4 separate regions of the Homo sapiens genome follow, and regions 1, 2 and 4 are each linked to region 3. Evidence: fine-mapped expression QTL. A gene starts in region 3. Each other region holds a variant in brackets. All regions are shown on one strand. Distances are between the middles of the regions. Region 1 has its middle 4.0 kb from the start of ZNF671. Region 2 holds the start of ZNF587B (zinc finger protein 587B). Region 3 holds the start of ZNF586 (zinc finger protein 586). Region 4 has its middle 6.2 kb from the start of ZNF776.

Evidence for each region. PIP is the estimated chance that this variant, and not a neighbour inherited with it, causes the effect.
Region 1: its variant is the best candidate, but not a certain one, in a credible set for the expression of ZNF586 in T cells (TOPMed, PIP 0.67).
Region 2: its variant is the best candidate, but not a certain one, in a credible set for the expression of ZNF586 in whole blood (TOPMed, PIP 0.87).
Region 4: its variant is the best candidate, but not a certain one, in a credible set for the expression of ZNF586 in whole blood (Lepik 2017, PIP 0.90).

What each region holds. Positions count from the first base shown.
Region 1 is chr19:57,728,485-57,734,685 of GRCh38, forward strand. No RefSeq gene overlaps it. Among named protein-coding and RNA genes, the nearest start is that of ZNF671, 4.0 kb to the left of the region's middle. The variant C/T (reference allele first, on the strand shown) is at 2,857.
Region 2 is chr19:57,827,378-57,833,578 of GRCh38, forward strand. It overlaps ZNF587B (zinc finger protein 587B), which reads left to right and starts at 2,922. Exons shown (of 3, transcript NM_001376223.1): 1 at 2,922-3,187. The coding sequence starts at 3,152. It also overlaps the pseudogene FKBP1AP1. The variant A/G (reference allele first, on the strand shown) is at 3,266.
Region 3 is chr19:57,765,971-57,772,171 of GRCh38, forward strand. ZNF586 (zinc finger protein 586) reads left to right here and starts at 3,706. Exons shown (of 3, transcript NM_017652.4): 1 at 3,706-3,908. The coding sequence starts at 3,873. RefSeq lists enhancers at 3,430-3,969, 3,691-3,940.
Region 4 is chr19:57,737,465-57,743,665 of GRCh38, forward strand. No RefSeq gene overlaps it. Among named protein-coding and RNA genes, the nearest start is that of ZNF776, 6.2 kb to the right of the region's middle. The variant G/A (reference allele first, on the strand shown) is at 2,636.

The sequences.
Region 1 (6,201 bases), 37 kb before region 3:
GTGGACAGATTTCTTCAGAAAACTCTTCCTGCCTGGGTAATCAGTGATGTCTCCATCACAGCAAAACACAGTGCAATTACCATTTAACCTGTCATTGTCATTGTAAGTATGGTGTCTGTGTTAGGAGGTGAGATTATCCCCGGGGGAAAAATCCTGACAGCTATTAATAATGATTCCGTAGTTATTTGAAGATAATGAAAGAAATTGCTCTAAGGAAATATCTGTGATAGATGGACAAAGTTAAGATCTCAGTAAAGTTTGAGCCTGAATACTAAAGTATAAGTGAAAGAATGAAGTTAAGCATATGGTTGTGTTGTGATCTTGACCACACTTTGTCAACAAAATGTGACTCTTTTTTCCTGAAAATGCTGAGCAATTGTAAAGAAGATATCAGAATGGTAAAAATCAACAGTGAAGTTGTGCTGTCTTGATAATTCACTGTTAAAATACACATCCAAGGAACACATACGAGCTCTCAGTAGGTGTTTTTCAAATGTGTTAGTAGCATGAAAGACATCACTAATAAAATTTCCAAGATTCCTATACATACAGGACATGTCCTGCATATAATGATTTTTGTCCTGCATCACCTTTTGACTTTGTCACAATACCCTAAATAAATATTCTAAAGAAGGCAACAGTCTTAAAGAAAAGAATTTTCAACCCGGAATTTCATATCCAGCCAAACTAAGCTTCATAAGTGAAGGAGAAATAAAATACTTTACAGACAAGCAAATGCTGAGAGATTTTGTCACCACCAGGCCTGCCCTAAAAGAGCTCCTGAAGGAAGCACTAAACATGGAAAGGAACAACTGGTACCAGCCACTGCAAAAACATGCCAAATTGTAAAGACCATCAAGGCTAGGAAGAAACTGCATCAACTAATGAGCAAAATAACCAGCTAACATCATAATGACAGGATCAAATTCACACATAACAATACTAACCTTAAATGTAAATGGGCTCAATGCTCCAATTAAAAGGCACAGACTGGCAAATTGGATAAACAGTCAAGACCCATCTGTGTGCTGTATTCAGGAAACCCATCTCACATGCAGAGACACACATAGGCTCAAAATAAAGGGATGGAGGAAGATCTACCAAGCAAATGGAAAACAAAAAAAGGCAGGGGTTGCAATACTACTCTCGGATAAAACAGACTTTAAACCAACAAAGATCAAAAGAGACAAAGAAGGCCATTACATAATGGTAAAGGGATCAATTCAACAAGAAGAACTAACTATCCTAAATATATATGCACCCAATACGGGAGCACCCAGATTCATAAAGCGAGTCCTTAGTGACCTACAAAGAGACTTAAACTCCCACACAATAATAATGGGAGACTTTAACACCCCACTGTCAACATTAGACGGATCAACAAGACAGAAAGTTAACAAGGATATCGAGGAATTGAACTCAGCTCTGCACCAAGCGGACCTAATAGACATCTACAGAACTCTCCACCCCAAATCAACAGAATATACATTTTTTTTCAGCACCACACTACACCTATTCCAAAATTGACCACATAGTTGGAAGTAAAGCACTCCTCCGCAAATGTAAAAGAACAGAAATTATAACAAACTGTCTCTCAGACCACAGTGCAATCAAACTAGAACTCAGGATTAAGAAACTCATTCAAAACCACTTAACTACATGGAAACTGAACAACCTGCTCCTGAATGACTACTAGGTACATAACGAAATGAAGGCAGAAATAAAGATGTTCTTTGAAACCAACGATAACAAAGACACAACATACCACAATCCTGGGACACGTCCAAAGCAGTGTGTAGAGGGAAATTTATAGCACTAAATGCCCACCAGAGAAAGCAGGAAAGATCTAAAATTGACACCCTAACATCCAATTAAAAGAACTAGAGAAGCAAGAGCAAACACATTCAAAAGCTAGCAGAAGGCAAGAAATAACTAAGATCAGAGCAGAACTGAAGGAAATAGAGACACAAAAAACCCTTCAAAAAATCAATGAATCCAGGAGCTGGTTTTTTGAAAAGATCAACAAAATTGATAGACCACTAGCACGACTAATAAAGAAGAAAAGAGAGAAGAATCAAATAGATGCAATAAAAAAAGACAAAGGGGATAACAGCACCCATCCCACAGAAATACAAACTACCATCAGAGAATACTATAAACACCTCTACGCAAATAAACTAGAAAATCTAGAAGAAATGGACAAATTCCTCGACACATACACTCTCCCAAGACTAAACCAGGAAGAAGTTGAATCTCTGAATAGACCAGGCTCTGAAATTGAGGCAATAATTAATAGCTTACCAACCAAAAAAAGTCCAGGACCAGATGGATTCACAGCCGAATTCTACCAGAGGTACAAGGAGGAGCTGGTGCCATTCCTTCTGAAACTATTCCAATCAATAGAAAAAGAGGGAATCCTCCCTAACTCATTTTATGAGGCCAGCATCATCCTGATACCAAAGCCTGGCAGAGATGCAACAAAAAAAGAGAATTTTAGACCAATATCCTTGATTAACATTGATGCAAAAATCCTCAATAAAATACTGGCAAACCGAATCCAGCAACACATCAAAAAGCTTATCCACCATGATCAAGTGGGCTTCATCCCAGGGGTGCAAGGGTGGTTCAACATACGAAAATCAATAAACGTAATCCAGCATATAAACAGAACCAAAGACAAAAACCACAGGATTATCTCAATGGATGCAGAAAAGGCCTTTGACAGAATTCAACAACCCTTCATGCTAAAAACTCTCAATAAATTAGATATTGATGGTAACGTATCTCAAAATAATAAGAGCTATCTATGACAAACCCACAGCCAATATCATACTGAATGGACAAAAACTGGAAGCA[C/T]TCCCTTTGAAAACTGGCACAAGACAGGGATGCCCTCTCTCACCACTCCTATTCAACATAGTGTTGGAAGTTCTGGCCAGGGCAATCAGGCAGGAGAAGGAAATAAAGGGCATTCAATCAGGAAAAGAGGAAGTCAAATTGTCCCTGTTTGCAGATGACATGATTGCATATCTAGAAAACCCCATCGTCTCAGCCCAAAATCTCCTTAAGCTGATAAGCAACTTCAACAAAGTCTCAGGATACAAAATCAATGTGCAAAAATCACAAGCATTCTTATGCACCAATAACAGACAAACAGAAAGCCAAATCATGAGTGAACTCCCATTCACAATTGCTTCAAAGAGAATAAAATACCTAGGAATCCAACTTACAAGGGATGTGAAGGACCTCTTCAAGGAGAGCTACAAACCACTGCTCAATGAAATAAAAGAGGATACAAACAAATGGAAGAACATTCCATGCTCATGGGTAGGAAGAATCAATATCGTGAAAATGGCCATACTGCCCAAGGTAATTTATAGATTCAATGCCATCCCCATCAAGCTACCAATGACTTTCTTCACAGAATTGGAAAAAACTACCTTAAAGTTCATATGGAACCAAAAAAGAGCCCGCATTGCCAAGTCAATCCTAAGCCAAAAGAACAAAGCTGGAGGCATCATGCTACCTGACTTCAAACTATACTACAAGGCTGCAGTAACCAAAACAGCATGGTAGTGGTACCAAAACAGAGATATAGACCAATGGAACAGAACAGAGCCCTCAGAAATAATGCCGCATATCTACAACTATCTGATCTTTGACAAACCTGAAAAAACAAACAATGGGGAAAGGATTCCCTATTTAATAAATGGTGCTGGGAAAACTGGCTAGCCATATGTAGAAAGCTGAAACTGGATCCCTTCCTTACATCTTATACAAAAATTAATTCAAGATGGATTAAAGACTTAAATGTTAGACCTAAAACCATAAAAACCCTAGAAGAAAACCTAGGTAATACCATTCAGGACATAGGCATGGGCAAGGACTTCATGTCTAAAACACCAAAAGCAATGGCAACAAAAGCCAAAATTGACAAATGGGATCTAATTAAGCTAAAGCACTTCTGCACAGCAAAAGAAACCACCATCAGAGTGAACAGGCAACCTACAGAATGGGAGAAAATTTTTACAACCTACTTATCTGACAAAGGGCTAATATCCAGAATCTACAATGAACTCAAACAAATTTATAAGAAAAAAAACAACCCCATCAAAAAGTGGGCAAAGGATATGAGCAGACACTTCTCAAAAGAAGATATTTATGCAGTCGAAAAACACATGAAAAAATGCTCATCATCACTGGCCATCAGAGAAATGCAAAACAAAACCACAATGAGATACCATCTGACACCAGTTAGAATGGCGATCATTAAAAAATCAGGAAACAACAGGTGCTGGAGAGGATGTGGAGAAATAGGAACACTTTTACATTGTTGGTGGGACTGTAAACTAGTTCAACCATTGTGGAAGTTGGTGTGGCGATTCCTCAGGGATCTAGAACTAGAAATACCATTTGACCCAGCCATCCCATTACTGGGTATATACCCAAAGGATTATAAATCATGCTGCTATAAAGACACATGCACGTGTATGTTTATTGTGGCACTATTCACAATAGCAAAAACTTGGAACCAACCCAAATGTCCAACAATGATAGACTGGATTAAGAAAATGTGGCACATATACACCATGGAATACTATGCAGCCATAAAAAATGATGAGTTCATGTCCTTTGTAGGGACATGGATGAAGCTGGAAACCATCATTCTCAGCAAACTATCACAAGGACAAAAAACCAAACACTGCATGTTCTCACTCATAGGTGGGAATTGAACAATGAGAACACATGGACACAGGAAGGGGAACATCACACACTGGGGCTTGTTGTGGGGTGGGGGGATGGGGGAGGGATAGCATTAGGTGATATAACTAATGCTAAATGATGAGTTACTGGGTGCAGCACACCAACATGGCACATGTATACATATGTAACAAACCTGCACGTTGTGCCCATGTACCCTAAAACTTAAAGTATAATAATAATTTTAAAAAAGTCTATTCAAAGGGATAATATCGAGAATTTCCCAAAGATATTAGGAAGGATTATCTTTCCAAGAGAAAGATATCAATATTCAAGTACAAGAAGGCCGTAGAATACCAAGCAGATTTAACCCAAAGAAGACTACCTCAAGACATTTAGTAATCAAATTACCAAAGGTCAAGGGTAAAGAAAGGATCCTAAAAGCAGCAAAAGAACAGAAACAACACACAAAGGAGCTCCAATATGCCTGGTAGAAGACTTCCCAGTATAAACCTTATAGGCCAGGAGAGAGTGGCATGATGGATTTAAAGTGCTGAAGGAAAAAACTTTTATCCTAGAATAGTGTATTTGCTGAAAGTATCCTTCAAACATGAAAGAGAAATAAAAACTCTTCTGGATGAACAAAAGCTGAAAGATTTTTGTCAACACCAGACTTGTCTTACAAGAAATGTTAAAGGGAGTTCTGCAATCTAAAAGGATGTTAATGAGCAACAAGAAATCATCTGAAGGCACGAAACTCACTGGTAATAGTAACTACACAGAAAAAAAAAACAATATAGTAGCAATGTAACTGTGATGTGTAAACTCATATCTTGAGTAGAAAGACTAAAATATGAACCTATCAAAAACAATTCCAACAAGTTTTCAAGACATAGACAGTACAATAAGATATACATAGAAACAAAAAATTTAAAAGCTGGGTGACATAGTTAAAGTGTAATGTTTTTATTAGTTTTTCTCTTGTTTGTTATTTGTTTATGGGATCAGTGTTGTCATCAGTTTAAAATAATGGGTTATAAGATATAGTTTACCATGGAAGCTTCATGGTAAACTAAATTCAAAAACCTACAACAGATACCAAAAAATTTTTTAAAAAGAAATTAAAATATACAACCAGAGAAAATCACCTTCACAATAAGGAAGACAGGAAGGAAGGAAAGAAGGAAGAGAAGACCACCAAACAACATGGCAGCAGTAAATCCTTACTTATTAATAAAACATTGAATATAAATGGACTAAAGTCTCCAATCAAAACACACAGAGTTGCTGAATGAATAAAAATAAAGACCCAATGCTCTATTGCATACAAGAAACACCCTTCACCTATAAAGACACACATAGATTAAAATAAAAGGATGGAAAAAGATATTTCATGCCACTGGAAACGACGAAATAGCAGGAATAACTACATGTATATCAGAAAAATAGATTTCAAGAGAAAAACTGTGAAAAGAGACAAAGTCATTATATATAATGCTAAAG
Region 2 (6,201 bases), 61 kb after region 3:
GGCGTGAACCCAGGAGGTGGAGCTTGCAGTGAGCCGAGATCATGCCACTGCACTCCAGCCTGGGCGACAGAGCAAGACTCAAATCAAAAAAAAGAAAAATCGACCCCTGACCTAATCAGTAATGTTATACAGATTACAAACATTATATAGAAAAGCATTGTGAAAATCCCTGTCCTGTTCTGTTCCGTTCTAATTACCAGTGCATGCAGCCCCCAGTCATGTACCCCCTGCTTGCTCAATCGATCACGACCCTCTCACACAGACCCCCTTAGAGTTGTGAGCCCGTAAAAGGTACGAGAATTGCTCACCTGGGGAGCTCAGTTGTTGGAGATGTGAGTCTTGCCGAAGCTCCCAGCTGAATAAAGCCCTTCCTTCTTTAACTCGGTGTCTGAGGGGTTTAGTCTGCAGCTTGTCCTGCTATACCTACGATTTCATCTCCAACCCAACCAATCAGGACTGCCCACTTCATGGCCCCCTATCTACCAAATTATCCTTAAAAAACCCCAGTCTCATGAGGTGGAGGTTGCAGTGAACCGAGATCATGACCTTGCACTCCAGCCTGGGCAACAGGAGCAAAACTCCATCTCAAAAAAACAAACAAACAAATAAACAACAACAAAAAAACCCAGTCTCCAAGTTTTCAGGAAGACTGATTTGAGTAATATTAATAAGACTCCAGTCTGCTGTTCATCCAACTCTGTGTGAATCAAACTCTTTCTTTTACAATTCTCCTGTCCTGATAAATTGGCTCTATCTGGGCAGTGGGCAAAATGAACCCGCTGGGTGTTTACACATTCATTTTAACAATACAATAATGGTTATTAACCTTTGCATTAATCTCTGCTTCCAGTGGAAGAATTTTGCATCAAAGGACCACTTGAAATGATAGGTGAATTTAGATCTATAGCCTTTGGGAGCACCTACACTAACTCTGAAATAATATTTTTCCATACACTAGGGTAATCAGCTACAGCTAATAATTGCAAGAAATCTCAATAGGAGTTTTAAGGAAAGGCAGGATGATCCTCTGCCCAGTAGAAAGATCTGCAATCTTTTATTTATTTATTTATTTAATTTTATTTTTTTCCAATACAGAGTCTTGCTCTGTCGCCCAGGCTAGAGTGCAGTGGCACAATCTCAGCTCACCGCAACCTCTGACTCCTGGGTTCAGGAGATTCTCCTGCCTCAGCCTCCTGAGTAGCTGGGATTATATGCATATGCCATCATGCCAAGCTAATTTTTGTATTTTTAGTAGAGGCGGGGTTTCACCATGTTGGCCAGACTGGACTTGAACTCCTGACCTCAGGTGATCCACCCGCCTCAGCCTCCCAAAGTGCTGGGATTACAGGCGTGAGCCACCCACACCCAGCCCTTATTTTTATTTTTTAGAGAAGAGGTCTTGCTCTGTTGCCCAGGCTGGAGTGCAGTGGCACGATCTCGGCTTACCGCAGCTTCAAACTCCTGAGCTCAAGCGATTCTCCCTCCTTCAGGCTCCCTAACCCTAACCCCAACCTTGGGGCAGCTGGGACCACTGGCCTGCCTGACCTCACCCCACTAATATTTTTTATTTTTTGCAGAGACAGGATATGGGGAAAAGAAATCAGATTGTTACTGTGTCTATGTAGAAAAGGAAGCCATAAGAAACTCCATTTTGATCTGTATTAAGAAAAATTGTTCTGCTTTGAGATGCTGTTAATCTGTAACTTTAGCCCCAACCCTGTGCTCACAGAAACGTACTGTATTGAATCAAGGTTTAATGGATTTAGGGCTGTGCAGCATGTGCCTTGTTAACAATATGTTTGCAGGCAGTATGCTTGGTAAAAGTCATCGCCATTCTCCATTCTCTATTAACCAGGGACACAATGCACTGCGGAAAGCTGCAGGGACCTCTGCCTGAGAAAGCCTGGGTATTGTCCAAGGTTTCCCCCACTGAGACAGCCTGAGATATGGCCTCATGGGAAAGGAAAGACCTTACATCCCCCAGCCGGACACCCTTAAAGGGTCTGTGCTGAGGAGGAGGAGTGAAAGAGGGAGGCCTCTTTGCAGTTGAGATAAGAGTAAGGCTTCTGTCTCCTGCTCATTCCTGGGAATGGAATGTCATGGTGTAAAGCCAACCATTCCCATTCGTTGTATTCTGAAATAGGAGAAAACTACCCTGTGGCTAGAAGCGAGATATGCTGGCAGCAATACTGCTCTGTTGCTCTTTGCTACACTGAGATGTTTGTTTAAAGTGAAACATAAATCTGGCCTATGTGCACATCCACGCACAGTACCTTTCATTGAACTTATTCATGATACAGATTCCTTTGCTCACGTGTTTCCCTGCTGACCTTCTCCCCACCATCACCCTGTTGCCCTGCCACACTCCCCTCACCAAGAGAGTAAAAATAATGATCAATAAATACTGAGGGAACTCAGAGACCGGCGCCGGTGAAGGTCCTCACATGCTGAATGTGCCAGTCCCCTGGGCCCACTATTCTTTCTCTATACTTTTTCTCTGTGTCTAATTTCTTTTCTCAGTCTCTCGTCTCCACCTGATGAGAGATACCCATAGGTATGGAGGGGCAGGCCCCCTTCAAACAGGATTTTGCTTTGTTGCTCAGGCTAATCTCTAACTCTTGGCCTCAAATGATCCTTCTGACTTGGCCTCCCAAACTGGTGGAATTACAGGAGCTAGCCACCATACCAGTCAGGGCGCATATCTTAAGGATACTCCTGAGGTGGAGCTGGGCTTTTCCTGCAGAACCGCCTCTGGGAATTGTGCCCTTTACCCTCCTTGTTACCTAGGGAACTACATTACCCAGAAAACTCCGCATGGAATGACAGAGTGGAAGAGCCATGGGGGCTCAGAATAAAGGCATTTCCTGTGTGCACGTGACAATGGGTCCGGACTTCCGGCGCCCTCTGGTGGCGGCCATTTTGATTGGTGTTGGGTTTATTTGTCGGAGAGGCTCCTGAGCGCTAGGTCGGCACTGCGGTGACTGAACCCAGAAGGCGGAGAACAGTTGTCCTCTGCTGCACAGAGGCGACTCTGGAGCTCTGTGACGGCGCCAAGCGTGACCCACCCCTGGGCCAGGATAGGGACCGTCATGCCCATATCTCCTGGCTGGTCACCCTCTCCTCCCAACCCTGCTTTAAACCACGTGGTTCGATGGCGGTGGTGGCCACGCTGAGGCTCTCTGCTCAGGTAATTGTGGTGCCTTCCATGCCCTCAGGTCACCTCATCATCACCCAAAAGCCTGTAGTCTTGCAAGGAAGAGTCTTT[A/G]AGGTGGCAGAGCCATAGGCAGCAGATGCTGAGTTTTTATTAGGAGTGACTGTCAGGACAGCCCTTTTGAGCTGCTGAAGGCCTAATCTTTTATAGTCACTGTACCTGAGCGAGTTAGAGAAAACGCCACACTTTGAGACGAATTAAGAGTCCGTTTATTTAAAAAAAAATCCGTTTATTTAGCCGGCGGCCAAGAGATGGGTAACGCTCAAAGTTCTCGCGGCCCCAAAGAAGGGGCTAGATTTTCTTTTATACTTTGGTTTAGAAAGGGGAGGGGGGGTCTAGTTAAAACAATTTTACAGAAGTAAAGTAGGCAAGAAAAGTTAAAAGGATAAATGGTTACAGGAAAGTAAACAGTTCCAGGTGCAGGGGCTTTAAGACTATTAGAAGGTGATAGATGGGGGGCTTTGGGCGTTATCAATCAGACGAATTCCTGGGAACTGCGGATATAGCTCGCCACAGTATCTTATCAGTTAATTGCATTCTTGGATGTGCTGGGAGTCAGCTTGCACAAGTTAAGTCCTTGAGGAAGGGGCTGCCAGTGAAAGAGCCAAGATGGAGTCTGTCTGGCTCTCTTATGTAAGGGAGAGTCAATTCAGGTGGAAACAAGTCTAGGTGATTAAAGGAAAGGGAGAATCTAAAAACAGGGTTAGTAAAAACAAGGTTGGGCATTACATCACAGAATCCTCTAGTGAGAACTGATAGTGGAACAGTGTGCTCGTTGGTGACCTTACCTCGTTAGATGCAGTCTTTATTTTTTATTTTTTTGAGACGGAGTTTCACTCTTGTTGCCCAGGCTGGATGCAATGGCGTGATCTCGGCTCACCGCAATCTCCGCCTCCTGGGTTCAAGCGATTCTCCTGCCTCAGCCTCCCGAGTAGGTGTCATTACAGGCATGCGCCACTGCACCTGGCTAATTTTTTGTATGTTTAGTAGAGATGGAGTTTCTCCATGTAGGTCAGGCTGGTCTCGAACACCTGATCTCAGGTGATTCACCTGCCTCGGCCTCCCAAAGTGCTGGGGTTACAGGCGCGAGCCACCGAGCCCAGCTTATTTTATTTATTTATTTTTTTTTTTTTTGAGACAGAGTCTCAGTCTGTCACCCAGCCTGGAGTACAGTGGCGTGATCTCGGCTCACTGCAACCTCCGCCTGCCGGGTTCAAGCGATTCTCCTGCTTCAGCCTCCCAAGTAGCTGGGATTACAGACACCCGCCACCATGCCCGGCTAATTTTTTGTATTTTTAGTAGAGACGGGGTTTCGCCATGTTGCCTAGCCTGGTTTCGAACTCCCGAGCTCAGGCAATACGCTCGCCTCGGCCTCCGAAAGTGCTGGGATTACAGACGTGAGCCACCGTGCCTGGCTGTCTTTATTTTTTTATTTGTTTACTAAACAAAACATCTTACCCTTTATAGCAGAGTGCCCTGTGAAATACAAATTGTCTTTTTCTTTTTGTTTTTTTTTGAGACAGAGTCTCGCTCTATCGCCCAGACTGGAGCGCAGTGGCACGATCTCGGCTCACTGCAAGCTCCACCTCCCGGGTTCATGCCATTCTCCTGCCTCAGCCTCCCGAGTAGCTGGGACTACAGGCATGCACTACTATGCCCGGCTTATTTTTGCATTTGTAGTAGAGACGGGGTTCCGCCATGTTGGCCAGAATGGTCTCAATCTCTTGACATTGTGATCCGCCCGCCTTGGCCTCCCAAAGTGTTGGGATTACAGGCGTGAGCCACTGTGCCCGGCCAATTCTATTTAATTATTTTAATTTCTTTGCTGAATTTATCTGATAGAATTCTGAATTTTTTCTCCGTGTTTGTCTTGAATTTCTTTGAATTTCCTCAAAATAGCTATCTTGAATTATCTGTCTGAAAGGTCACGTATCTCTGTTTCTCCAGGATTCGTCTTTGGTGCTTTATTTAGTTTGTTTGGTGAGGTCACGTTTTCCTGGATGGTGTTGATGCTTGTAGATATTCGTCAGTGTCTGGGCATTAAACAGTTAGGTGTTTATTGTGGTCTTCACAGTCTGGGCTCATTTGTACCTGTCCTTCTTAGGAAGAGTTTCCAGGTATTTGAAAGGACCCGGGTGTTGTGATCTAAGCTGAATCTACTTTAGCGGGAACCCCACACTCAGTAATGCTGTGACTCTTGCAGACTCAGAGAGCTGTACCACCTTTGTGGTCTTGAATAAGATCTGAAAGATTTCCCTTGATTAACATAACAGGTAGAGACTCTTGTTGGGTCTTCCCTCACTTTGTCCCAGCATGTCTCTGTCAGTGCTGAAGTGCCTGAAACTGGGGGTTGGGACAGAAGCACCCCTTTAGCTACCACCACTGGGACTGTGCTGGGTGAGAGCTGAAGCCAGCACAGCACTGGGTTTCACCCAAGGCTCCTGTGACCACTACATGGCTATCGCCTGTGTTCCCTCAAGGCCCTAGCCCTGTACAGTCAGCAGGTGGCAAAGCCAGACAGGCTTATGTCCTTCTCCTTAGGACGGTGAGTTCCCCAGGCCTCAGGTTGGTATACAGATGCCATCCATGAGCCAGGGATTGGAGTAAAAATCCTTAGAAATCTACCTGGTGTTCCTTTGCACTGCAGCTGAGCTGGCACTCAAACTACAAGCTAGAGCCCTTCCCACTCTTCCATCCCCTTTCCACAGGCAGAGCAGCCTCACTCTGTGGCCACCACCAGCACGGGCCCACAGGGAGTGCTGTCAGACTACCACTGAGGTTCCATTAAGGGCTAAGAGCTCTTCAGTCAGCTTGTGGTGAATGTTGCCTGGTCTGAGGCTGACTCTTCAAGACTCACCCAGGGCAGGTCCAGCAATGTCATCCACGAGCCAAGGCCTGGAATCAGGGACCCCAAGAGGCTTCTTGGTGCTCTATCCCTCTGTGGTTGAGCTGGCAGCTGAGGTGCAAGACAAGGTCCCCTTTACTTTTTC
Region 3 (6,201 bases):
TGGGATGTTATGGAATCAGGCTTTTTTTTTTTGATACAGAGGCTTGCTCTGTTGCCCAGGCTGGAGTGTAGTGGTGCAATCTTGGCTCACTGCAACCTCCTCCTCCCGGGTTCAAGCAATTCTCCTGCCTCAGCCTCCCGAGTAGCTGGGATTACAGGCGCTCGCCACCACCCCCGGCTAATTTATTTATTTATTTATTTTTTAGATGGAGTCTCGCTCTGGCTGGAGTGCAGTGGCGCAAACTCGGCTCACTGCAAGCTCCGCCTCCCGGGTTCACGCCATTCTCCTGCCTCAGCCTCCCGAGTAGCTGGGACTACAGGCACCCGCCACGGCGCCCAGCTAATTTTTTGTATTTTTAGTACAGACGGGGTTTCACCGTGGTCTCTATCTCCCGACCTCATGATCTGCCCACCTCGGCCTCCCAAAGTGCTGGGATTAAAGGCATGAGCCACCATGCCTGGCCAATTTTTGTATTTTTAGTAGAGACAGGTTTTCACCATGTTGGTCAGGCTGGTCTCGAACTCCTGACCTCATGATCCGCCCCCCCACCCCCCACCCCCCCACTGTCCCCCAAAGTGCTAGGATTACAGGCATGAGCCACTGTGCCTGGCCAGTGAGGTTACTTAACCTCCCCCAGATATCTAATTAAACATGGCTCTCAAGTTTCTGATCATTTAGAAGCCATCCGATTATCAAAAAAGAATGTTTTATTAACGTTCCTGAACATTCAAACTCACCTCTCCAAAGAGTAAAAAAAAATTATTTCGCAGATGCAGCAGCAAAAAGACTCTCTTGACACCAATATCACATGAAACTATAAAAGTCACTACATTCAAAATAAGTGCCATTGAACAGGAACTCCAAGGGATTCAAAAAGAGGCTTCAGATAAGAAAAAGTAGATATGGCTAACAAAGCGGTAATGCTTTTCCCCCATTTACAAATTTTGGTGTGGACCCAACAGGAGACCCATCTTGCCTTTGAGATTTCAATTTCTTATGGTACAACATGTTTATGAGCCAACTCACGGGAAATCTGAGAAAATGATTGTTTGGGGAAAGAAATACTACTGGAAACCCTCACCTCCATTACTGAATAAAGTTTACACTAAATATCCAATTTAATTTATACAAAGCATAATCCAAGAAAGCTTTTTTTTTTTTTTTTTTTTGAAACGGAGCCTCACTCTGTCCTCTGTCACCCCGGCTGGAGTGCAGTGGCGCGATCTTGGCTCACTGCAGCCTCCGCCTCCTGGGTTCAAGTGATTCTCCTGCCTCAGCCTCCTGAGTAGCTGGGATTACAGGCATGCGCCACCACACCCAGCTAATTTTTCTATTTTCAGTAGAGACGGGGTTTCACTATGTTGGTGAGGCTGGTCTCGAATTCCTGACCTCGTGATCCGCCCACCTCTGCCTCCCAAAGTCCTGGGATTACAGGCATGAGCCACCGCACCCGGCCAACTTTTTTGTTTGTTTGTTTGTTTGTTTGTTTGAGACGGAGTCTCGCTCTGTCCCCCAGCCTGGAGTGCAGTGGCGTGATCTCGGCTCACTGCAACCTCCGCCTCCCGGGTTCAAGCCATTCTCCTGCCTCAGGCTCCGGAGTAGCTGGGACTACAGGCGCCTGCCACCACGCCCAGCTAATTTTTTTGTATTTTTAGTAGAGACGGGGTTTCATCATATTAGCCAGGATGGTCTCGATCTCCTGACCTCGTGATCCGCCCGCCTCGGCCTCCCAAAGTGCTGGGATTACAGGTGTGAGCCACCGCGCCCAGCCAACTTTTTTTTTAAGTATAGAAAATTTTACAGGTTGGGCGCGGTGGCAGGCGCCTATAATCCCAGCTGCTCGGGGGGCTGAGACAGGAAAATCACTTGAACTTGGCCAAGAGGCGGAGGTTGCAGTGAGCCGAGATCGCAGCAATGCACTCCAGCCTGGGTGACAGAGCGAGACTCCATCTCAAAAAAAAAAAAAAAAAAAGAGGTGGAGATTTCCCAGAACTGAGGTTCCCTCCCCTTTTTAGACTATATAGGGTAACTTCCAAACATTGCCAGGGCATTGGTATACTGTCATGGCGCTGGCGGGAGTTAGTATGCTAATGCATTATAATTAGCGTATAATGAGCAGTGAGGATGACCACAGGTCACTTTCATCACCATCTTGGTTTTGGTGCGTTTTAGCCAGCTTCTTTACTGCATCCTGTTTTATCAGCAGGGTCTTTGTGACCTGCATCTTGTGCCAACCTCCTATCTCATCCTGTGACTAAGAATGCCTAACCTGGGAATGCAGCCGAGTATTTCTCAGCCTTACTTTATCCAGCCCATTTTCAAGATGGAGTCACTCTGATTCCAATGCCACTGACAATGATAAGCACTTGCCAGCAAAGAGGTGAACGCATGGATTTAAGGCACTTGAAATATCTCAGTGTAAAAGCACCCTGTGCATGTAGCAGGACGAGCCGCAGACAAAACCTCTCAGACACCGAGTTGCAGAAGGAAGGGCTTTATTCAGCTGGGAGCATTGGCCAGCTACTGTCTCAAAATCTGAGCTCCCGGAGTGCACAATTTCTGTCCCTTTTAAGGGCTCACAACACTAAAGATTTCACATGAAAGGGTCGTGATTGATTTGAGCAAGCAAGGGGTATGTGACAGGGGCTGCATGCACCGGTGGTCAGGGAGGAACAGAACAGGGCAGGGAGTTTCACAATGTTCTTCTATACAATCTAAGGAATCTATGAATAACATCGGCTTCTAAATCATAAGTTGATTTTTAACTACTGGGTTTAGGCCAGGCGGGCCTAGGCCTGGTTTCGGGCCTGGCGCGGGGTTGCCTGTCTTTGGTTTTACTTCCTTGTTGTTTTTACTGAATATAAAACAATGTGAGAGGGTCTCTCTCTTCTCTCATGCATACATACTCCATGTTTGAACACCGCAGCCATTGTCCTGTAACATAATAGCATTTGTCTCATTAGCTTTTTGATGTTGATATCAGATTTCTAGAGGAATCTGTAGGTTAAAGATATAAATAAAAGTGTTGCTAATGGGCTGAGAACGGTGGTTCACGCCTGTAATCCTAGCACTTCGGTAGACCATTGCAGGCAGATCACTTGAGGCCAGAAGTTCGAGACCAGCCTGGCCAAAATGAGGAAACCCCGTCTCTACTAAAAATACAAAAATTAGCAGGGTATGGTGGCACACGCCTGTAATCCCAGCTACTCGGATGGTTGAGGCACGAGAATCGCTTGAACCCGGGAGGCATAGGCTGCAGTGAGCCAAGATCACACCACTGCACCCCAGCCTGAGTGACAGAGAGAACTATGTCTTAAAAAAAAGACAAAAAAAAAAAAAAAAGGAAGAAGCCGAGCATCACAAATTCTGAAATAAGAAGTCTCCAAACACGCGGGCAATCAGTTGCACACAGTACCCCCAGAAATGTGCGTATGGCCTCTTCTAAGATGGGAGACCCTCCTCCGCATCTGGACCTGGAGTCGCCATTTCCTAGCGCCCCTCGCAGTGGAGCTTGCCCCTTTCTTCGGAAAGTCGGAAGAAAGCCACCTTAAGCGCTGCCCATGTCTGGGAACTACATTACCCAGAATCCGCCCTGCGAAATGGTAACGTGGCTGAGCCAATGAAGCTTCAGAGAAGCCGTGCCATTGCCGGGGCACGTAAAGTCAAGCCAGGACTTCCGGCGTCCTAGCCGTGGCAGCCATTTTGGCCTGTCAGGTCCATCCGGCGATGCTGGGTCTGGACGAGCTCGGGAGGAGTGGTTGTGGCCATTGCACACAGGCGGATCTGAGGTTCGGCGACGCCGCTGGTCGCGACCCGGGACAGGACAACGACAGGAACACCGCCGAGCCCGCGTTCCCCCCCCGCCCAGAGTCATGGCGGCAGCAGCCGCTCTGAGGGCGCCTGCTCAGGTGAGCGCTGCGACCTCCGGGCCTTACCCACCCTACCCACCCAGACCCTGAGGCCCCTGATCGTGAGGGCCGCCTCCTCGCGTCCCTGCAGCCCAGGCCTCTGTCAGGGACGGAGAGGCGCCGGCGGGTGGGATCCCTGTTTCCGACACCCAGTTGATGCGGTCGGCAGAGCGAGACTGGCGGAGGGCAAAGGCCTGCAGGCGCGACTGAGGCAGGAGGATGCGGAACACGGGGACATCGTGTGTCTACTGGGAAAGAAGTGTGATACGGAGTTATTTCTTTTTTTTTTTTTTTTTGAGACGGAGTCTCACTCTGTCGCCCAGGCTGGAGTGCAGTGGCGCGATCTCGGCTCACTGCAAGCTCCACCTCCCCGGTTCAAGCGATTCTCCTGCCTCAGCCTCCCGAGTAGCTGGGATTACAGGCATGCGCCACCACGGGGTTTCACCATGTTGGCTAGGCTGGCCTCGAACTCCTGACCTTAGGTGATCCGCCCACCTCGGCCTCCCAAAGTGCTGGGAATACAGGCGTGAGCCACCGCGCCTGGCCGAGGCGGAGTTGTTTCTTCAGTACCAGGCTGAGGGTTGAACTTTGACTGTGAGGACGCTAAAAGCCATGGACAGTTTTGAACAAAGGAGGAAATCTGTGTTAGAGTTGCGATTCCCAAAAGATGTTCGAAGGAAGAACAGAGTTGAAGGCAGTGATGAGGACATTGAGAGGTTGAATCATTGAGAGGTGACATTGAGCACTGGGCCACAAGATTAGAGACTCAGTCTGAAGTCATCTGGCTGCAGGGCCAAAAAAAGCTTACAGAGAAGCCTGAGTCTATCAAATCCGAGCACAGACACATTTGTGAAAGCCCTGCCTTTTGGCACACCTCATGGCTACAGAAGCACTTACAGAATCCACAGTAGGAAGTAGGGGATGCTCTAGTCCTTCACTGGTCCTCATCCTATCCCACATGTCTAGATCTTGGCATCTTTTTTTTTTTTCGGCGACGGGTTCTCACTCAACACCCAGGCTGGGTTGCGGTGACGCGATCACGGCGCAGCACGGCCTCGACCTCTCCGGGCTCAGGAGAGCCTCTCATCTCAGTCTCCCGAGTAACTGGCTTTTTGTATTTTTAGTAGAGGTGGGGTTTCACGGCCGGGCGCGGTGGCTCACGCCTGTAATCCTAGCACTTTGGGAGGCCGAGGCGGGCGGATCACGAGGTCAGGAGTTTGAGACCATCCTGGCTAACACGGTGAAATCCCCCCTCTACTAAAAATACAAAAAATTAGCCAGGCCTGGTGGCACACACCTGTAGTCCCAACTACTTGGGAGGCTGAGGCAGGAGAATCGCTTGAACCCGGGAGGCAGAGGTTGCAGTGAGCCGAGATCGCGCCACTGCACTCCAGCCTGGGCGACAGAGAAAGACTCCGTCTGAAAAAAAAAAAAAAAAGAGAGAGAGAGAGATGGGGTTTCGCCATGTTGCCCAGGCTAGTCTCGAACCCTTGGGCTCAAGCAGTCCTCTTGCTTCGGCTTCCCAAAGTGCTGGGATGCCAAGCAGGAACTACCGCACCTCCTAGGACACTTAAGTGCCATTTCTCCGGTCCTTCAATCTGGGGATCTTGGAAAAACCTCAAACCCCAAACCTACATCAGTGACATAGGTTATGGGGAGTTGTTGCTATGTCTGTCAACTAATGTAACACATGTGGAGGGTTCACCCAGGAACTGATACTGGGGTGTGCAAATACTTACTTAGAAGTGAAACTAGAGGGGTGAGGTGATGTTACCAATTTCTTAATAGGCGCTGTCTGGTTACTGAGTGGGCAACAGACTGTGGGGTTGAGGGAGGAGGAAGATCAAACTGGAAGCTACTGCCCTAGTCGAGGTGAGGATTAATGGACTAGAGTTGTGGCTTAGGCAATGTGGCTAGATCTGGATTTGTGTTTTTTAGAGGGGCAAGTCAATTTTTTTTTTCCCAAGATGGAGTCTGGACCTGTTGCCCAGGCTGGAGTGCAATAGTGGAATCTTGGCTCACTGCAACCTCCGCCTCCTGAGTTCAAGCGATTCTCCTGCCTCAGCCTCCGAAGTAGCTGGGATTACAGGCGCGCGCCTCCACACCCAGCTAATTTTTGTATTTTTAGTAGAGACTAGGTTTCGCCATATTATCCAGGCTGCCTCGAACTCCTGACCTCGTGATCCACCCGCCTTGGCCTCCCAAAGTGCTGGGATTACAGGCTTGAGCCACCGTGCCCAGCCTGGCAACTCAATTTTTAAATGTGAACAGTGAGAGCTTGAGAGGATTCAGG
Region 4 (6,201 bases), 29 kb before region 3:
CCATGTTGACTAGGATGGTCTCGATGGCCTGACCCCGTGATCCGCCCGCCTCGGGCTCCCAAAGTGCTGGTATTACAGGCGTGAGCCACCACGCCTGGCCGGAGTACTTGTTTTTCAATACCACAGGAGCTATGAGCTGGTCCTCCATTTTGTATCAAAGAATGTGTCCCCAGGTGACAAGATGCAGATTCCAAGACATTGAATCAATATGATGCCACCATCGCTTTCTTTCTGTTCTATGACATCTTTCTAGTCTTACCTTACTATTTCCTTGGCTCTCAGTTGGTTTTTCCTGAGTTCTCAGAAATTGAAATAATACACACTTTGTAGAAATAAGAATTTCATGTTAGTCAAGTCTCTAGGATAGCCATGGGCTCCACTTAATTATCTCAGAACTTACAGCCCCATGTCCTCTGCTCACTATCCATTGAGATTTATGTGTTCTCAGACTTCACAGAAACTTTTCTAGCTACTTATGTCATTCTCAGTGGTAACTTCATTTATCCACAATATTAACTAATTTTCTCAGTCCAAGCTGTTTTCCAGAGGTAATCTCCAGTCCCCATGCCGAAACTATCATTGTACTTACTGCTGAAATGATAGTTCCTTCCCAGCAAGAAGGTGAGATTATTGTACCCAGAATCTTTTCTCAGGGTTCAAATATCCACTTTCCCCATGGCAGGAATGCTGACACTCCAGCCACGGTTTTGTAAATGTGAATTAGTAAATACCAACTATTCCCAGGTGAGTGTTGTGGGCAGCAAGCTACCCAGGTGCTGAGGCAAGAGACCGAGGGCATGAGCCATTCCAGTATAATAAAATATATAAAACAACAAGAGTTATACTAGATCTAGATCATAGATGTAATTATATATGAATATCATTAATCATTAGTTTGTAGCAATTACTCTTTATTCCAGTATTATAATAATACTCGCTCTATAATCATAACCTAGAAAAAACCAGGCCATACAGAGATAGGAGCTGAGGGGACACAGTGAGAAGTGACCAGAAGACAAGAGTGCGAGCCTTCTGTTATGTCCAGACAGGGCCACCAGAGGGCTCCTTGGTCTAGCGGTGATGCCAGCATCTGGGAAGTCTGGTCTAGCGGTAGCCTTAGTGTCAAGGAAAAACAACCGCTACTTAGCGGACCGGGAAAGGGAGTCTCCCTTTTCCCCGGGGGGAGTTTAGAGAAGACTCTGCTCCTCCGTCTCTTGTGGAGGGCCTGACATCAGTCAGGCCCACCCGCAGTTATCCGGAGGCCTAACCATCTCCCTGTGATGCTGTGCTTCAGTGGTCACGCTCCTAGTCCACCTTCATGTTCCATCCTGTACACCTGGCTCTGCCTTCTAGATAACAGTAGCAAAATTAGTGAAAGTACTAAAAGTCTCTGATATGCAGAAATAATGGTGTAAGCTGTCTCTCTCTCTCCCTCTCTCTCTCTGCCTTGGCTGCCAGGCAGAGAAGGGCCCCGCGTCCAGTGGACACATGACCCACATGACCTTACCTATCATTGGAGATGACTCACACTCTTTGCCCTGCCTCTTTTGCTTTGTATCCAATAAATAACAGTGCAGCTAGACATTCAGGGCCACTACCAGTCTCCGCGCATTGGTGGTAGTGGTCCCCCGGGCCCAGCTGCCTTTTCTCTTATCTCTTTGTCTTGTGTCTTTATTTCTACACTCTCTCGTCACCGCACACAGGGAGAGACCCACCGACCCTGTGGGGCTGGTCCCTACAGAGTGTTACAATCAGAAGGAACCAGTTCTGCTCTGAGGTTGAGACATACTCTGAGGGACCTGGAGACATGGTGCAACCTCCTCTCCTTGCCTTATGCCTCTCCTCTATATTTCCTCTGAAACCTTCTTTGAATATTCTTCCTTCCATTACTGACTGAAAATATTAAGCCTCACAAAGTCCACTGTAAGATCTTTACCAGTGGGAAATGAAGAAGACTGTTTAAAGTATTTGAGTGGCCATTTAGTGTCTTTATAACATTTTTTGGTTATGCATTTTTGTCTTTTTGGGGGCATGATTTGCAAATTGAGTCTCTGGTATTTTACTAACTTGTGTTTGATGAGTGAAAGAGTTAATACTTCCTCTCCCATTAGTGAAAGGAAAGACACTTCAGAAACATGAATAAAAGATTGTAAATTGGAAATAGTAAGGTAATCAGATATGTAAAGAATCTAGGCCAGGCGTGGTGGCTCACGCCTGTAATCCCAGCATGTCAAGTGATTCTCCTGCCTCCACCTCTCTAGTAGCTGGAATTACAGGCACCTGCCACTACGCCCAGTGAATTTTTGTATTTTTAGTAGAGACAAGGTTTCACCATGTTGGTCATGCTGGTCTAGAACTCCTGACCTCTGGTGATCCACCCACCTCGGCCTCCCAAAGTGCTGAGATTACAGGCATGAGCCACAGCGCCCAGCTTCCTGACATCGCTTAATGCATAATCTCTTCACAGGGTATTTCCAAAGTCCAAGGGCTCTTTCATAACACCTACAACTGGTTCCATCAGAAATGTTTAAAGCATAACAAAATATGTTATCATCGTCCATTTTTTCTATTGTCTCAAAAATATCTTTGTTCTTTAAGCAGCTTCATTGCAATGAAATTCCCAAATGTGGGCGTG[G/A]TGGCTCACGCCTGTGGTCCCAGCACTTTGGGAGGCTGAGGCGGGTGGATCATCTGAGGTTGGGATTTTGAGACCAGCCTGGCCAACATGGTGAAACTCTGTCTCTACTAAATACAAAAATTAAAAAAAAAAAAGAAAGAAATTCCCAAATTTATCCCCATGACTTTTAGTAGTTCTGTCTCATATATCTCTATTAATCTACAGGTATGACTTTCCTTTTTAAAATTCCTTTTTTGTGCGGGGTGTGGGACAGGGTCTTACTCTGTCACCCAGGCTGGAGTGCTGTGACACAATTACAGCTAACTGCAGCCTGGACCTCCCTGGGCTAGGTGATCCTCCCACCTCTGCCTCCCAAGTAGCTGGGACTACAGGCAAGCACCACCATGCCTGGCTAAGCTTTTATTTTTTATTTTTTGTAGAGACTGGGTTTCACAATGTTGCCCAGGCTGGTCTCAGACTCCTGGGCTCAAGCAATCCACCTGCTTTGGCCTCCCAAAGTGCTGGGATTACATACATAACCACAATGCCTGGCCTTAAATTTTATTTTATTTTTTTATTTTTTTTGAGACGGAGTCTCTCTCTGTCACCCAGGCTGGAGTGCAATGGTGCAATCTTGGCTCACTGCAACCTCCGCCTCTCAGGTTTAAGCAGTTCTCTGCCACAGCCTCCCAAGTAGCTGGGATTACAGGCGCCCACCACCACGCCCGGCTAATTTTTGTATTTTTAGTAGAGACGGGGTTTCACCATCTTGGCCAGGCTGGTCTTGAACTCCTGACCTCATGATCCACCCGTCTTGGCCTCCAAAAGTGCTGGGATTAGAGGCGTGAGCCACCGCGCCTGGCCAAAATTTTATTTATTTCTTGAAATTGTGTAATTTTTGTATTAGAATTTATTATACTCTAATTTTTTGTGCATATCTCTGATATGATTTAAGTTGTTTACACATGTATAAGCCATAAGCAAACTAGATATTCTTGAAATGGGTGATTCAGGGGTAGTCCCACATAAGTGTGTGATTATGACACAGCCAGAAACACACAGTTGGATTACATTCTCCCAGCATGCTGTGGTACAGTCTGGAAGCAAAAATTTCAAAGAGTGTATGCTCCTGGTGTGTGACAAGTGCCTGAGGGTTATACTGCAGCACAGCCTATAGACAAAACACATATCCCAGGGACCCTGTGTGACAGGTGTGCAGTATTTAAAGACCTCAGTCCGGCAGGGCACGGTGGCTCACGCCTGTAATCCCAACGCTTTGGGAGGCCGAGGTGGGTGGATCACGAGGTCAAGAGTTTGAGACCAGCCTGGCCAACATGGAGAAATCCTGTCTTTACTAAAAATACAAAAATTAGCCATGGGTTGCGCTCACCTGTAGTCCGAGCTATGCGGGAGGCTGATACAGGAGAGTTGCTTGAACCAGGGAGGCGGAGGTTGCAGTGAGCCAAGATCATGCCACCACAGTCCAGTCTGGGGAAAAGAGTGACCCTGTCTCAAAAAAAAAAAAAAAAATCTCAGTCCATCCTAGAGGTGCCCCTGTTATACCTATAGGACTCTGTGTAAGAGGCATTGGGTACTGGCACCTATTGACAGCCTGAGCCGACATAAATATATACCACACTGACAACAAACCCAAGAGGGAGAGATGTGATCCACACAACCAGCATATTCAGAACCCCAAGGGGCTGTTAGACAGAATGGAGGTGGGGTCATACTGGCCACACAGAAGCACAAATGCTACTCAGAGACTTGGGCTTTTAAATTTGCTGATTACAAAGGTTTAGTGGGAGCATAAGCAGGGTATAATCAAGAAAATTTTACTCCACAATAGATAGAAATATACCTTCCAGTGTGTGTAGTCATAATATAATTGGAACACACAATTTTAAACTTCTAGACATTACTGTAGAGTCCTATGTTGATTAAGAATCATCACAGATATTTCTAGAAAGAAGAAAGCAAAATATTACTGATAGTGAAGATGAAATATGCCTATATAACTTGCTGTCATGCAAGGTAACATTTAGGTATTGAGATTCTTTACATCCCTGATTACATTGCCATTTGTAATTTATAATCTTTTATTTACATTTCTAAAGCATCTTGCTTTTATGTGCCTATATATCATGCTGTCATACAAGATAACATTTAGAGGCCAGGCATGGTGGCTCATGCCTGTAATCCCAGAACATTGGGAGGCTGAGGCAGGTGGATCACCTGAGATCAGGAGTTTGAGACCAGCCTGACCAACATGGAGAAGCCCTGTCTCTACTAAAAATACAAAGTTAGCCAGCTACTAGGGAGGCTGAGGCAGGAGAATCACTTGAATCCAGGAGGCAGAGGTTGCAGTGAGCTGACATGGTGCTATTGCACTCCAGCCTGACAACAAGAGCAAGAAACTCCGTCTCAAAAATAACAAAAATGAGAGATATCAGGATTATAAGTAAAACAGCATAGTAATACACTTAAGAATAGATAATCGGTCAGATGTGGTGGCTCATGCCTGTAATCCCTGCACTTTGGAGAGCCGAGGTGGATGGATCACCTGAGGTTGGGAGTTGGAGACCAGCCTGACCCTTTTTTTTTTCTAGTAGAGACAGGAGAAACCCTATCTCTACTAAAAAAAAAAAAAAAAAAAAAAAAACACACACAACCAAATTAGCCGGGCGTGGTGGCACATGCCTATAATTCCATCTACTCGGGAGGCTGAGGCAGGAGAATTGCTTGAACCTGGGAGGCAGAGGTTGTGTTGAGCCAGGATTGTGCCATAGCACTTCACGCTGGGCAGCAAGAGCAAAACTCCGTCTCAAAGAAAAAAAAAAAAAAAAAATTAGCCGGGCGTAATGGCACTGTAATCCCAGCTGCTTGGGAGGCTGAGCCCTGAGAATTGCTTGAACCCAGGAGGTGGAGGTTGCAGTAAGCTGAGATTGCCTCACTGCACTCCAGCCTGGGCGACACAGCAAGACTCTGTCTCAAAAAAAAAAAAAAAAAAGCCGGGCGCAGTGGCTCACGCCTGTAATCCCAGCACTTTGGGAGGCCGAGGCGGGCAGATCATGAGGTCAGGAGATCGAAACCATCTCGGCTAACACAGTGAAACCCCATCTCTACTAAAAATACAAAAACTTAGCCGGGTGTGGTGGCGGGCGCCTGTAGTCCCAGCTACTCGGGAGGCTGAGGAGAATGGCATGAACCCGGGAGGCTGAGCTTGCAGTGAGCGAAGATCACGCCACTTCCTCCAGCCTGGGTCACAGAGCGAGATTCCGTCTCAAAAAAAAAAAAAAAAAAACAAACCACCATGCAATGATAAATAATAATGGATCATTGAGGAAGAATTCATGGGACTTCATTACATAGTCCTTTGTATTTGTGTATATATTTGGAAAAATCCATTACAAAAGGTACAATATGTTCTTGCATCAATAACTTTATACAGGCATACTTTGGAGATAGAACAGGTCAATTTTTTTTTTTTTTTTTTGAGATGGAGTCTCACTGTGTTGCCCAGGCTGGAGTGCAGTGGCGCGATCTCGGCTCACTGCAACCTCCACCTCCCGGGTTCAAGTAATTCT